Homo sapiens: one gene and its partner. The protein of the gene in region 2 binds, or shares a complex with, the protein of the main gene of each other region. Links are inferred from orthologs where the notes say so. Each region holds a gene or a part of one and is shown on either strand. Other genes may lie near its edges. The genes, in order: GRM5 and HOMER1.

The links.
Region 1: the proteins of HOMER1 (region 2) and GRM5 are in contact, whole or in part, in a crystal structure (PDB 1DDV), measured with the Rattus norvegicus proteins. The link is inferred for Homo sapiens from one-to-one orthologs. Residues at the interface, in NP_113895.1 of Rattus norvegicus: His12, Phe14, Trp24, Thr70, Ser71, Gln72, Lys73, Phe74, Gly89, Phe90; in XP_006229721.1 of Rattus norvegicus: Thr1155, Pro1156, Pro1157, Phe1160.

The regions. Positions count from the first base shown.
Region 1 is NC_000011.10:88,503,163-88,510,377, forward strand, and holds the end of GRM5 (metabotropic glutamate receptor 5 isoform a precursor), read right to left. Parts: intron 6,343-7,215; coding exon 5,430-6,342; 3' UTR 1,480-5,429; downstream 1-1,479. UniProt on the Homo sapiens protein: G-protein coupled receptor for glutamate. Ligand binding causes a conformation change that triggers signaling via guanine nucleotide-binding proteins (G proteins) and modulates the activity of down-stream effectors.
Region 2 is NC_000005.10:79,510,340-79,519,500, forward strand, and holds the start of HOMER1 (homer protein homolog 1), read right to left. Parts: upstream 3,796-9,161; 5' UTR 2,436-3,795; coding exon 2,431-2,435; intron 679-2,430; exon of another isoform or gene 48-678; intron 1-47. UniProt on the Homo sapiens protein: Postsynaptic density scaffolding protein. Binds and cross-links cytoplasmic regions of GRM1, GRM5, ITPR1, DNM3, RYR1, RYR2, SHANK1 and SHANK3.

The DNA of each region.
Region 1 (7,215 bases), on a different chromosome or scaffold from region 2:
TATTTGCAAATTGTTTATGTTCTAAAACTGATCATTCATGTACAGCATAACCAAAAACTTGGCCAGCATTCAGCAGCAATTATAACAGAGGAAAAGCATTCTCTCTGTGGTGTTCAATATCAATTTACTAAGTTGTCCTTGATAGACAGTTCCAAGGTTGCATATGAGTTCAAACCTCAATAGGTTTCCTCCAGGATATATGCTTTAAGTTGGACAGGAACTTGTTAAGCTCCACAAATAACATTGATATAACAAATTTAAGCTTCCTGCTGAATATTAACTGTATACTAAATACTACATTGACACTAATAATAGCTACTATTGAGCATTTATCAGGAATGTTGAAATGATAGAAACTTCACAGATTATTGTAACTCACTTCTGCATTTAAAGCAAGAGGAACAAGTTGTAGAGAAATCAGAGTGATTTATCCAAAGTCAGTTGGTGACAGGTAAGAGATCCTGGCTTTTAATTCAATGCTATTTCTATTGCATCCGCTGGTTTTAAATGGCCTTCCATAATTTGATGGAGTCTGATAAGGCTCTTTGGATTTTTAGAAGGTAATTTCCTGTACCTGGTTTGTATATGTCACTTCATCCTCAATTTTATGTGAACATATTACCATTCATATCACGTTAGAATAAAAGATACTGAAGGGAAGAGTCTGACAAAACAGATAAAATGGCTTTCTTTGTTAAGATCAAACACATTCTGTATAATATATGTATCTACATATGTATATATATCATTATGCATTTAATACAATGTCAGAAGCATAAATCAAATATATTTTTAAATATACCTTGTTTTTCTCTTCCATACATCAAGCATCTACCTTATATTCTGCTGTTAGTTTTTCACTAATTTGTGTCCAGGGAATGTATATTTGCTCAAGAATCAGTCAAAGTAAAACTTTTTTTTTTTCTGGAAAAATTATGTAATATGCACATACATCTACACACAAACACACATATACACAGAGACACATGCAGATGGACTCAAAAGTCAAATGTCTATATAAATATGTATGTTTGTAAACACACATCTATACACACACAAATAATCTATTTTATCTGTGTGATGTTACCTCTATCAACACATATAATTATGAAACTATTTCTATAATTTGTATGTCTAGATGCATAAACAATGCATATTTCCTATATATTTTTTTAAGTACTTCTTTATGTAACAGTTGTTTGTAGATGTGTTTGGGGACAACATCTCTGGTTGGTTTGTGGTTGGTTTATATTTTCATTTAAATCTATACAGTCCACTGCTTACTTTGTAAACCCCATAATTCAAATGTATAGATCATCCAGTATTCAAGATTAATTAGTATCATGGCTCTTTTCATCTCAGAAAACACTATTAAGACAACATTCTAAACATTTGAGGGGAATAATCTTAAAATCATATTATAGGTTTTTTAATTTTTTTGAAAAGTAACTGGCTTCACAAACACCAAGTACAACATGATTTAGACAACTGAGAAACAGGCAAGTATATTTTGAAGTGCTAAAATAAAACATATTTATACAAGTACAAAGCAAAACAATGCTGATAAAAATGTTAAACTTTATGAAAAAAAATCATTTGCAGTTCACATCAAAATAATTTAACATTCTCTATTATTTTAATAGTACAAGCTGCCACAACAGAGAAAGAACAGATACACGCACACAATTTTAAAACCAAATCAGTTATAAGTGCAGAAAAAAGTAAGTACAAGCACTTTTAGCCCACACAAATCTTTTAGGATTGGCACCATCTTTCTAAAACATCTATAATCTATATAGATTTCTAATTACAACACCATCAGCAGCTGCCATTGATTTCTAGAAATACACACAATATACATAGTATATTTGTTCACATTGGGAAGATCAGTGAAATTCAACCAACTATTTTATACATGCCTCATTCTTCAATAGACAGTAGAGACTCTCCCAGGCCTCAGACCCTCTTCAAAGTGAATTCTGACTTGTCTTTATGCTTTCACTGATCTGTATTTTTTCACAGTATAAAATTGTAAATGGTAACTATAGAGATTCTGACAGCTTGAGGGTTATTAATAAGCTGTTGCTAAATGTGAACTCACATAATACCTTTGAAGTCTCCAAAACATGTACATTTTACTGGGAGACTAGCATAGGAAATGCTTTTGTTTTTTGTTATTCTTAAAAAGAGCATTTAATTCCTGGCTTGGAAGTCACAGAACTGCAGCAGAGCTATTATACAATTCATTTACAGTCAGAAATAGCTCCTAGTCTTCCTGATCACTTGCTGGTAACAGCAGTAGTTTGGGAAAGATAGTTACTTTCAAGGATTAGCACGTTTGGGGATTTGCTTTTTTTCCTTGCTTCAGTCAAATCTCTTATAATTTTTCTTTCCATACTCCCTTTCTGTTCCCCATCCCTAGCCCAGAAAGACGGTTCTTCCCAATCCAGATATGTTCTTCTTAGGCTGCCCCCACTCCTTTCCCAAAATGGAAGGATGAGTGGACTGCTTAGATTAGTCAGTATAACTTGGTTAAACCACGTCTTCTTCTTTCCATCCTGGGACATATCTCTCATTTAGGGTCACTTTGCTGAGCCTTAGCATATCCCCTTCCTTTTAGTCATGCTGGTCCCGACTGAATTATCACTGGGCACCAGGAACAGATTGTTTTGAAGGAAATTCAATGAGAATGTACCCAAATGAATTGTGAAGTTCATATCCTATAGCCCTAGAATGAATATTCAGTTCTCTTTGTACTGTAGAGTTATTACTTGGAACCTGGTATTAGAATTGGCAAAGAGACAGAGTTAGCATCATTCCAAAATAAAAGATCTCAAGAATGCATTACTAATAATCTTATGTCCAACATACAATGTATTCAATGGAGTGGCAAAAGTTATAGAAATACAGAGAAAAATATATCTTGTCCTTTTCTAATTGGATAAATCATTTTTATTATTACAGTTGATTATGATAGCATGTGGAAGTATCAGATGGCAATTTACTTGCATTAAATTTAATTTCTGATGAAGTTTTTTATAAGGTAGTGTGCTTTTTAAGAGATATGTTACTAAAAAAATAGAAAATGAATTTGACCATGAACAAAGTTTAAACATGTTCTTCAACTGGTCTAGAGTGAAACGTATTGTACTTGAGAATAAAATGAAAATCAACATAAGGATTTTATAAAACAAATTTTAAAATGTAGAGCATATCAAGAAAGGTTTTTAATACCTAAGAAGTCAAGATAGGAATCCTCAGGTGAATGCCATCCTTTTGATGAGGATCCAAAGGGTATTAACACCTCAAAAGATTTCCATTTGTTTTTCAGATAGAGGCAGACATTTGCTTTTAATGAAACCATGAAACTTAGCTAGATTTCACTTACATTTTAAAAGCCTCGGTGTAATATTTGGGATCAGGGTGCTGTGATGATGTTATTTTCAAATCTAGCATGGGAGGTTCGATTTCTTTTAAATTAATACTTTAGTACATTAATGTTAGCTTTTAATGTTTTGTATTGGGAGGTTTGACTTAAAGTTGCAAGTAAGAACAAATAGCAGAAAAGAAAACTCAAGCAGAATATTTATTAGAATTTTTTAAAGTGAAGAATGATAAATTATGCCAATGGACTGACTTCTATTTCTCAGTTTATTTTCTGTTAAGTAGATGTGAAATAAAAAAAAATACTTACCAAAGTAAGGATATTGAGCTAAAAGAAAAAGTTTTATTTATTATTCTCTCTGCCAAAATATACTTCTGCCTCACAGCACATATTTTTCATAAGGCTATCTTAAGTATAAGGCTGGGTCAACTGAACTTTAAATTTATAGGACACCTCCTCCATTTATTACTATCCTTATTTAAAAATCAAAACATTTGGTACCTGAGGATAGCTGCAATGGGAGGAAGAAAGAGATGACAGTGGATTCAGGTCTTGAACTATGAATTCTACCTATTTGAGACTATCAAAGCACACTTGTTTCTGTTATACTCTAAATCTCTTTTCTGTAGTTTTAAAAAGTGACAGTATGAAGTGCACAAAATCATATTAATCATTATTTTAAAAAAGAAAATAAGAATTGCTTTGCCTCTTTTTGGAATGGCTAAGAAAGACTGTGTGGTTAATATTCATTAAGGTTCCTCTTTTTTAGTATTTTGTATTGCTTTGAAAAATCTACATTTGTCATAGTTCATAGCTGCCCTGTTTAAGCAGCCAAGAATAGTTAAAATCACTGCTCACTGGCATAGCTAAATCTCCACTAAGCTGACTTGACACAGTTAAAATTTTCAGTGTATTAAGATTGTGTTAATCCTTTCAACAACAGTCTCTCAAATCATGACAATGTCTTCATGGGGTCTATGGACCACTCTTCCAGTGGTGGGACTCGAAAAGAACAAAGGAGCTCTTTGTGCATCAGGTTCTCAAAATAAAGGAATGAAGAAGCCCCAATGCATATTTTAATATTTTAGTTGGCAATGCAAACGCAACAGCATTCCTAAAGAGTGGCCATGTTTCTTGAAAGAGATAGCCAGGCTGGAGCTCAAGAATGATTTTTATAAAGAGAATTTCCAGCTACAATGCACCCCAGTGAGGGAATTACAAAACAGTATTCCAGAAAATATTTTTTTTGCTACTCCAGTATTGATTGGCAACATGGTGAAATAGTCAAGAAATCTTCCACTGGTTTTCTTGGTTAATGGAGGTGAATCTGAAATAAGTAGGTGGAATCCCCGATGCAGGCTTTTGGAAGAGTATTTCACAACCCAATTGGAGAGGAAAATCTCTGGTAGAAGCCCTACGTAGTACATTAGCGCAGCACTCACTATCCAGTAGTGTGTTATGCATGGGACACATTCACAACGCCTCCGTAAATACTGGACCCAAGTTACTGCTTTTCAAGGTCTTTACAGGAAAGAAAAAACAAAAAGAAAGAAAAAAGAAAGAAAAAAGTTGATGTTTTGGTCCCAGATTTTGAGTTTGTTAGAAAATGTACATTCATGTTTGGTGAATCAAAGACTCTTCTGGGAAAAGAATTAAAGTAAACAAATAAAACTTTTTACAGTTGCTTATTAACTATGCTCTTCACCCTCCGTTACGCTGTTTCACACGCACTGCTTCCCTAGAGCAAAGCACTTGGTATGGAACTGTTTGAAGAGACGCCTTGTCAGCCCTCAAAGATATCAGCCGTGTTTCTTAAAAGCCCATGTTTTCTAAGGCCACTAGAAGAAAATCTGCCAAAAGATTTGTCGTCGGTTTCTTCGTCGGTTGTCATGAGATAGCACTACTGATCTCGTGTTTCCATTAAGGGGTGCCCTTGGCATCTTCCCCCTGGGCCGTAACCAGGCGACTATGCTTGCCATTGTGTGTGTGTGAACACGGGGGGCTCCGCTCCGCACGCGCAGGCCGGCGTGCTTTCCAGGGACATTCACAACGACGAGGAGCTCTGAGTGTAATCTCTTATGATAAGAGTGTCATATTTGGGAGACGACGGGATACAGAGGGCCGACTCGGACACTGGCGAGTTGGGGGTTGTGCTCCCCGAGTCCACCGAGTCTCTGAAGGGGGACGGCGGGGTGAGAGCCACCAGCTCCTCCAGGTCTGGCTTGGCGGCCGCAGCCTCGGGACCGGCCGCGGGGCTCTCCCGGGCCGCGTCCCCAGCCGCCTGCGCCCCTGCCGCGGGCTGCGCGCCTCCCGTGACTTCGATGGCCGGCAGAGGCTGGATTTCGGCAAAGGTCGTCATGGTCGTGGGCAACTGGATCTCTTTGGGGATCAGGTAGGACGAGCAGAGCGGGGCGCCGACGCCGGGGCTGGGGGCCGCGGTGGACAGCATCATGGAGTTGAGCTCGCTGATGTTGGCCGTGAAGCGGGTGACCACACTGCTGATCTGCTCCATGAGGGAGCCCTGCGAGGAGCTGCTGCGCGCCACAGGCTCCGAGTGCAGCGACGGCACATCGTCGTCCGTGCGGCTGGCCGAGCCCGCGCGGTGGCTCAGCGTGCTGATGGGCGACGGTGAGCGCGGCCGCGCGGGCGCCGGGAAGTGCTCCTCAGCCTCGGCCACATCATACAGCGCCTTGGGGCCGGCGTCTGGGGACTCGGGCCCGCCTGGGCCGGCGCCTGCGCAGCCCGCACCGCCCGTGGCCCCCACGCCCCCAGCGCTCCCGCCTGCGCCAGCGCCAGCGCCCAGGCCACGGCTCTCCGTGCTCTTGGGGAAGGGCTTGATGACGGCCGTTTGGTTGGGGTTTTCTTTCTTGTTGATGTGGATGGACAGGCGCTGCCACAGGTGCTGCCCCCGGCTGCTCTTCTCATTCTGGGCCCACGTGACGGATTTTCCATTGGAACTGAGGAGAGAAGGGAGAGGAAAGGTGACTCAGCGAGGTGCCCAGGGGGCTTGGATGCCGCTTCCCCAATGGTGGTTGCTCATGGGCCCCGGACTGGGGAGGACTTTTCTCATTCTTTCAGGAAACACAGCATCAAAAGGACATCATGGAAAGAGACCTTGGAAGTGGCTTTCCTTTGCTTGTTTTGAGTTAAAGACTGCTTTCTATATCAGGGCTTCAGTTTATCATAATCGTGAAAATGTGTCAAAGGGGATGCTTGTCAGGATGAAGGAGTGTTTATTAGGATTCTGCGGGAGTTCTGAGCCCACCTGTGAGTGCAGCAGCACACAGATGCAAGGGCTTGCAGTGTCCCGGCTGTGTGCACAAGTGCCTGGTACAGGACAGGGGCTTCCTAGAGTTAGTGGCCTCTGAAGGAAAACATTACCACTAGGACCCAAACTCACCAACAATCATCAGAGAGGAGGGAAGGGGTAAGAGAGTCAGGGATTACCAGGAGGTAGTCAGTGGTTCCAGTTCCGCCTTTATTCTGGAAGTTGGTATATATATAACTAGGGTTTTCTGTCTGAACCCCTGATTTTGAACATAGTGTTACTTAGGCTGCCTTACCTGCTGGAAAATAAAAATTTAATGAACACACATTTCTAATGAGAGCTTCTTTACTTCACAGAAATTCACCTCACAAATGTATTTTGAGTTCTGTACTTGAATAACAGTTCAATGAGTGAGAGTGCTGTATAATGCCTTCGGCACTTAGCAGAGTGATCTCAAATTAGGATCCTGGTGAATATTGAGGGACTGACAAGTTTTTTGAAGGCCTTTCTCTCTCTTTCTCCTTTGCACTTCCACCATGGGGTCTGAAAGCCACTCTCAAGA
Region 2 (9,161 bases):
CTTTCCCACTTTAAACAACAGCCCCCTTAGTATTAAATTCATCCTGTCTCTTCAGATTCTAGGCGCTTCAGGAGCCGCGCCTTAAGGTGCAGACATGGCCAAGTCCAAGAACCACACCACACACAACCAGTCCCAAAAATGGCACAGAAATGGTATCAAGAAACCCGAAGCACAAAGATACGAATCTCTTAAGGGGGTGGACCCCAAGTTCCTGAGGAACATGCAGTTTGCCAAGAAACACAACAAGAAGGGCCTAAAGAAGATGCAGGCTAACAGTGCCAAGGCCATGAGTGCACATGCCAAGGCTATCAAGGCCCTCCTAAAGCCCAAGGAGGTTAAGCCCAAGATCCCAAAGGGTGTCAGCCGCAAGCTCAACTTGCCTACACTGTCCACCCCAAGCTTGGGAAGCATGCTCGTGCCCGCATTGCCAAGGGGCTCAGGGTGTGCTGGCCAAAGGCCAAGGACAAGGATCAAACCAAGGCCCAGGCTGCAGCTCCAGCTTCAGTTCCAGCTCAGGCTCCCAAAGGTGCCCAGGCCCCTACAGAGGCTTCAGAGTAGATATCTCTATCTGCCAACGTGAGGACAGGACTGGTGCGACCCCCCGCCAGGCTGCCATCTGCATGGGGCTGTGGGGCTGGGGTCCTCCTGTGCTATTTGTACAAAGAAACCTCAGGCAGGGAAAAAAAAATTCATCCTAAGCTTCCCTTGGTAAAATGACAGGCATTCATGCAGCTTAAAGGTTCTGGAAAACTGATTTTCTTCCATGATGCTACTACTCCACAGTCTAGACAAAATGCAGCCATCAACATGAAAAACTGCTGCTTGATTTTTTTTCCTCCAACATGTTTTAAACAGAGCTGCAGATGCTCAAGGGAAGCCATATTTCTAAGGTTTTGAACAGTAGTATTTTTCAGTATTTTTCTCATTTAAAATTGGTGCAATTCATCCAAAACATTTTTCAAATGCCATTATTTTTCAGCGTTAAGCGCTTAAACTGCTTAGAGTGAAAAAGGTCTCCATCAGAAAGATCGACTTGCAGAAACCAACTAGTGATCATTAAAATGAGGAGGAGAATAAAAAGAAAGCAATTCGTTTTTTACAGTTTGGAGAAATCTTTAAGTCATCTCTAAATCGTTCATTTTACAGGTAAGAAATAGAGTCCACAGAGGTCAAGTAATTTGCCTCAGATCACTAAGCTACTAATAGCAGCGCTAGAAATAGAATGAGGTATTTTAATTACTCTTAGCGGTACCCCCAAATCATGCAAGTTATATATATTCTCATCACTTGTCATTCAAGTTTTTAAAACCATTATAACTTTGTCATTAATTTCTGAGGAACGTCTCCTACAACATGCTCTAAATTTTCAAAGTTATGCATGTTAAACTTCAAATTCTAACTCCAAAAGGAAGGTACTATTCAAGAACTTTCCTCAGAAAGTTTCAAGCGTGTGTACACACCTAAACCATCACGATGAATTGCAGAGTCCATTCTTTAAAACATGCCCCTCAACTACACTTCAGATGTGTTTGTTCAACCACACACACACAAAAAGAGAAAATTCTGGAAGTTCTTCTGCCAAAAAGCAGTGACAACCTGTCAATGAAATCAGATTGCTCCATTAATATATTATGGGTTTCCAGCTTAAATTAGGAAGTGTCACTAGCATTTCATCAACCCACAGTGTGAAGAGTTAATAAAAGACTGGAAAATGCACTCTCAGTTGGCTCTGGGTCCGAAGGAAGGTGTAGATCTGATACTGTTAACTCAAACTGAAGGGCTGAGCTTAAAAGCGAAAAACAAAAGGAGTGAACAAGTTCCTTAAACAAAAAGCTTTTTCCTACGAAATGCACCCGTACCGTGGTGACCGCATCAGTAAGACTGAATTTCAGATTTTCGTTTTAACGCCCCAGTAAATCAATTCTATACATTTTAGCTTTGAATATTCAAGGACAAGACAGAGGGCACGGTGAGGGCAACAATTTACTCTGGATCACTTTCAAGGACTGTTGTCTAACCACTCATTAAAATCGTTCCTTTGTGCAACTGATTATCTAAAAGTACTGAGAGAATGCAGTACTTCTCTTTGAAAGATAACCGTCAGCAAAAGCTAAAATAATGTGATTTTGATTACAAACTGATGCAGCAGTCTGACCAGTAAAGTGTAGAATGCGTTGTCTTTGTAAACATTACTCACAAATCCATATTCAAGTTACAAACGATATATGTGTTTTTAAATTATGACCTCTGGTACCGCTCTACAAAAATGCAAAAATAACCTAAAAGGTTAGCATGCCTATTTCTTTAAAGTATGACCAGCTTAGCAAGGTGGCAAGTTTGTTTGAAAACACAAAACACAATCACCACCACCGCTCAATAATACACATACATAAACAGATTCGAAGCTGTGTTAAGCACAAAAATCCTTACCCCATTTTGCCCAATGAAAACTTGCTCTGAAGTTTCAGCTCTTATGCTACGGAATAACTTCCAAAGGAATTTCTCCGTCTGCTATTTCGCAGTTGCTTTTCCACCCCCACCCCCAGATCCTTGTCCGGAGGTATTTCAAGGATGCTGCCAATTCAATTAGTTCTCTTAGGTAAAATGATTTCTCTCTTGTAAATACCAAAACGTTCAAACAGAGGCGGCATTTGCTTATTCGAGTTAAAATGCTTTGCGGAGGAGACAGCGATCAACTCTATTCCACAAAATGAGTCTACAAGTAGGGAAATGCAGAATCCGGCTTCACCGAGTCCTATAAAAAATGAGTTCGCTGGTCATTTCACTCATGTCCTCCTCGACACTCAGGGAGAGCCAGGTAACTCGGCCTTTTCGGAGCTAAGGCTGCGGGTTCAAATTTCTCCACCACACCAGGTCTCCGGGGGTGGAGCGAGCAACCAAACGCGACGTGCACGTGAATAAAAATCCCAAAAGCAGTAATGCCACGGCTTCCCTGCGCTCACATTAGGAAAAAAACTACACAGGAAAATCTCCTCGAAGTGCAAACCCGGCAGCTCGCAACCTGCACGGCACTCCACATTGGAATCTGTCTTTTTAAATGTTTCTCCTCCTAAGACTCGGAGCAGAGAAGAGGTGGGGAGGACGAAGAGAAGGCTAGGCAGGATCGATTCATTCTCCCGAAGAGAATAAACGGAGCCATTTCCAGGCTGGCAGCAGGCTGGGGGCGCAGCGCACGCCGGAGAGCTGGAGGAGGGGACCCGATCCCACCTCCCTCAGCCCCTTCCCGCCCCCCGCCGCCGAGCACAATGGAGCCCGGCTGGTGCCCGGCCCTTCATTCGCGGCTGCCCCCTCTTCCCTCCTCTCTTCAGAGCACAGCGGGTCTGAGGCTCCCGTCGGCGGAGAATGAATGAATCACAGAGCCAAGCCCCACGCTTCCACTGGCACCCTGCCCCCAGCTCCAGGGCGGGCGAAAGGGGCCGAAGGGTCGACGGGCGCCTGCCCGAGCCAAGGCGGGAGGCTAAGCCCGCGTTGGGGCCAGGAGAGCTGGGCTCGAAGCCGAAGCGCAGCCGCCGCTCCAGCGCCCCCACCCCTACTCCTCGTCTCTCACGCTCCGCGCCGCCGCCACGCGCCGCCTCACATTCCCCGGGCCCCGCCGCCGCCTCTTCACACTTCCATCAGCGCCCGCCTCCGGCTACCGCCGGGCAGAGCAGCGCCAGCCCCGGCGGCCTGAAGCCTGCCGCTGCCTCCGCCTCCGCCGGCCGGCCGGCTGGCAGAGAAGAGGGTGCTGCTTTCCCGGTCAGCGCCGCCGGCGTGAAGCTAGCGCGGCGGCAGAGTGGGCTGCGGGGGGCGGGAAGGGGGCGGAGAGAACGGGGAGCGAGGGCGGTCCCTCCCTCTGCTCGCGGGAAGGGACGGGAGGCGGTGGCCGCCGCGGAGCCGCGGCCGGGGGCTGGGGCGCGGACTGGTCCCGGGAGCCCGACGGGCCTTGCGAGCAGCGGGCCGCGGGAGAAAGCAGCAGCCGCAAGGCGGCGGAGAGGCTGATGGTGGGGGGCCGAGCGGCCCTCGTGGGGAGCTGGGCCGGCGGCAGGCCCTCAGTCCGTTCGTCCTTCTTTTCCCCCCTCCCCTAGAGGCTGGCGGCTGGCTGGCCGTGCGCTCTGCTCCTCCTCTGGCTCTTGGCCCCGCTCCCGACCGCCACAGCCTCCTCCGCGCCCCACACCAGGTGCTCGCGCTGTGTCTCCATCCTCCCCGCAGGAGGACCTTTAAATAGCAACGTCAGCGCGCTTCTCTCCGCACACACGTCACCCGCAGCTCACGTCACCGAGGTGCGGGGGATGATGTCACGCGGCCGGAAGTACTGCTAAATTAGGGAAGGAGCAGGGGGAGGAGGACTCGGCGAGCTCCTGTGTGCCCACCTGCTCTCACTTCTCCTTAAAGGCCAAAGCACAGGAGACAGCCCGAGAGGAGCTCGAACAAGGAAGCGGCGGGAGGAGGAGATTTCCTTGCAACAAATGTGCCAAACCTGAGTGAATCATTCGTAGCAAAAGTGCAGTGTCAAGCGGGTAATAGCCTATCTCCCACTCCCACCGCTATTGCAGCAGCACCCCCGGGCTTCTCTTGTCCTGACTAGCAGGGAAATGTGGGAGGGAGAGCCTGATCACACTGCTGGTAGATGTGCTTCCAACAGGACTTCGGAAAAATCACCTAAATTTTCAATTATAGAGTGCCATTCTGGACATAGTCGACTTTTAAACTTTTTGTTAGTGGTTACCTGAAACACGAAAGAATAAAGAGCAGAGCAATAAGCAAACGAAATAATGTTATAAAGGATAGTAATTTTATTTGCAAAATAGCAGTTTTGACATAGGAAAATGAGTCAATCTTAGTTCACGTATAGCAAATGCCAGTGTGTCCTCTCAGTTTCTCTTCATCAAGAATATGAGTTCCATGACACTTGGCTCCAGCCAGTAAAACAAGAAAGAGAAAAAGTATATGGGTTTCAGTCTGTGGAATTTAAATTAAAATTTAAAAATTAAAAATAAGAAAGAGCACCAAATCCTTTTTCATTAACACAAGCATATTTTCGTCTTCTTTAGTTTTGACCACATAATATGTAATTACAATATCTCTTAAGTGTGTTTTGCATTTTCTGTATGGCAAGGGTGAGTAGCTGTCTATAGGTTTACTAGCTATGTGTGTCTATAAACACCATATTATGAGTGCTTTTTACATTGTAAATTACTACAGAGTTTTTAAATTATTTTAAAGTAATTAGGTTAAAACAATTTTTTAATTAGGTAAATCATATAGTGAACTTTGATTTTATTTTACTTAACTTGATAAGCATGGCCAAGAAATAGAATTGCTGCGTATTGCCAAAGGCCAATACTGTTTCAAGTTAGTCTACAAATTTAGTGACCCTGTTTTCCAGACCAAAATCTAGACACACCATTTGACGTTAGGAAAAAATATTTGAATCTGAAGTGACCTGGAAAATCCAAAACATAGGATTACCAACCTATGAAGTGATTATTAGGAAAGTTATAGATCAATATCAACGCAGTTTAAATAAAAGAAGCTAAAACTCGTTAGAATGTATACCACGTGTGACTTTTAGAAACTGTTTGTAATGTTAAACTACTCACATGGTTCCTAATTAAGGAACATTGGTTTTGCAGCTTTCTGTATTTACATTTTCTTGCTCAAGTTAGGAGTCCAAGATTAAAGAACACCACCAACAACAAAAAAGACCCATTTGTAACTGATTCAAACACTCTGGTCATCTTCACATTATAAAATTATGATCTTGCTTGAAGTTTGAAATATTAAGTCTTTTTTTTGAGACTGAGTCTCGCTCTGTTGCCCAGGCTGGAGTGCAGTGGCGCGATCTCGGCTCACTGCAACCTCTGCCTCCCAGGTTCAAGCAATTCACGTGCCTCGGCCTCCTAAGTAGTTGGGATTGTAGGCGCGCGCCGCCACGCCTGGCTAATGTTTGTATTTTTAATAGAGATGGGTTTTCGCCGTGTTGGCCAGGCTGGTCTCGAACTCCTGGCCTCAGGTGATCCACCCGCCTCGGCCTCCCAGTGTGCTGGGATTACAGGCATTACCCACAGCGCTCACCCTAGTTTTTTACGTTGTTTTGTTTTGTTTTGTTTTTTGAGGCGGAGTCTCGCTCTGCTGTCTAGGCTGGAGTGCAGTGGCACGATATTGGCTCACTGCACCCTCCACCTCCCAGGTTCAAGTGATTCTCCTGTTTCAGTCTCCTGAGTAGCTGGGACTACAGGCACTTGCCACCACGCCCGGCTAATTTTTGTATTTTTAATAGAGACGGAGTTTCACCATGTTGGCCAGGCTGGTCTCAAACTCCTGACCTCAAGTGATCCGCCCACCTCGGCCTCCCAAAGTGTTGGAATTACAGACTTGAGACACTGCGCCCGACCGCGTCGTTTTTTTTTGTTTTGCTTTTTGTTTGTTTGTTTTAAGGTTATAACAAAAGGTTAATGAAAGGCAAATCCCTGCTTGCCAATTTGTCTAATGTATATTATTATCATATTAATCGAAACTTGTACCAATTTGTATTTCAGACAAATGGAGCTTCTTATATCTAAAATGTTAAAACAATAAAACTATCATTCTTCCAATAATGTCATCCCTTGGCAAATTAAAATACAAATTATGTTATTACACTACTAAAATTTCTCTACAAACAATTTCCTACCTAACTAAATAACTTCTCTCTTTCCTGCTCTTTCTCTCCATGTTAATTAAAGCTCTCACTTTACCATTTTCAAACACTTTATTCTACCCTTTCATCACAACTTCCTCTCATTTACAGTCTTTTTTCCCCTCATCTTTACCCAACTGTCAAAACAGCTTTTCAGCTGCTTTCCTGCCTTTAGAGTGCTGACCCTTTGTTAGTTTCTACTTTTCACAACCACATCGTCTCTTCTCAGCTGCTCTTTTATCAACTGAAAATTGAGAGCAGCTTTTTTTCTACATAAATTGAATGGTGCACTGTGATATAATTACTCAAAGTTTATGCAATTATTTAACTTCAGCCTCAATCTAGAAAATTCTACCTATAATTTATTACTTATAGGTATGAATTTCTTGCCAGCTTATATGGGATCAGGATCAGTAAGTACATGTGTCCATGTAGTCAAAAGAATATGTAAAACTTTGAAACATTTTATGTAATATGGCATGTCTTCTCAGAAAAAAATAGCCTTTTCTCCCTGCTTGAAACAATTCCAATACAGTTTTAAGAGGAGTCAGAGAGGCATTCCATGGCTTTCCATCTGTAAGTAAATAAATATCTTTTCTCCTAAGATGAGCTGATGTAACCCAAATTTTAGTTGTGAATTCCCAACCCTGATTTTTTTGTATGTTTTTTAAAATAGTAAACTTCCTAGAAAGTAATATATTTTCTTTTACCGGAAGAGGAAGAAAGTACTTTAGTAGAGTTTCAGATTTTAACAGTTCCTGTTTCCCACTGTGCTCTGAAAATTTGTAGGGCGGTTTATGAATACCCTCTGATTTTAGAATCTGTGGGCGAAGGCATCTGTTTTAGTTACAGAGTTTATTTCCATGCCCTTAATAGGAGATGGCAATCTTCAATGGGGTGTTCATACACTGGTCATGAGATATGTCTTTTTCAATGAAAAGACATCTAAGAGATAGAAAACCTTTGCAGGAAAGAGAGTAAAAGCCAGATTTTATTTTTAATTGCCTTACATTAGATAATAACAACTTGCTTTTAATTACCAAAATACCACTATCAATTCAAATAAAGTCAGATTGAAAAATAAGTTAAAAGATATCTCTCTATATAAAATAAATATCATAATTCCTAGTTTATAATACATAGTCATGAAGAAACTAACCAGCAAAGAGTAAACGTAATAAGAATGAAAGAGTTGCAGGGAAACAGAATTTATCCAGTGACTCTCCAAAATCATCCCACTTCCTCCATTATATAGCAGATACCGGGTACCATTGAGTTGTGTATGGCCTGTAATAAGACCATCTTTTATTGTCAGTAATGTTCTGAACAGAAGCAAAGTAGTTAAACAGTCTGAAGGGTGGGAACACAAGTGTTTGGCATCTTCAAGGCAAGGCTTGAGGACAATTTATTACAGAGGTTTGAAAGTGGTAGAGGAAAGGAAGCTAAAGAATTAGCCTTAGGAAAACTATGGTAGATAGCCATGGGAAATGATCTCAGAACTACCTCCTGCTCTGATTTTTACTGTAAATTCATTTTCCAAATATGGTCAGAGGGATACAAATGTAATCCTAGATAGTGAAAGAGGGTACTAGAAAGTTTTCAGTTAGCTGCTGTTGAGGGCCCACATAGAACAAAATTAGAGGAAATGGTAGTACAACTGTCTATATAACATTTTTAAAATATTCAGAAAAGATGGGGATAAGGTACCTTTGAAAAAATTGTCTGGCTTAACCTGGGTTGGTTGGTTGATTGTTTTAAGCAGGAGTTAGAGAAAACAGGCTAGAAAAATACGCAGATCTGCAGAGAACTACAGTAAAGAATGTGGAGTAAAGGTTGTGCTGTACCTGTGCAGTTACTTAGAATGGAATGCTGTGGAAGCTGATTGCCATGGTAACCAATAGTCTTTTTCCTGAATGGGGGAACAGAACAACCATGAGGAAAATGTTTTAAATGAACTACCTTATTTTGTGACTGTTATGGTGCCAACTAAAACAAAAACAACCCACAAGGTATTTAGGACAATCATTCTTATGGAAGGAAATGGCCTTCTTTTCAGAGAGACAAGGCTGAGGCAGAAATTCTGGAGCATTTCAAAGAGAGATGGGGCTTTAAGATGGCAATTGCAAACTCTCTGAAGCAGAACATAATGGATAGATATTATATTTATGGCTAAAGCAGGCAGAAGCAAGACCTAGAACTCGTGTTAAAGTTTCTCCCAAGCAAAAGAATCAGAAATAAATGAAGATTCTCAACACTTGAGAGTTTCAGCCAAAATATTTCATGAATTATTTATGAGGCTTTTTATTTTTTTAAATCTTGTTCTAAATTTTAATTTCTCTAAATATTAAATGGAAATGGTAAATGTATCTGTATTAGTTAGGGTTCTCTAGAGAAATAGAACCAATAGGGTATATATATAGAGAGAGGTAGGCAGGTAGGTAGATGATTGATAGACATAGAGACAGATGTGATATTTATTATA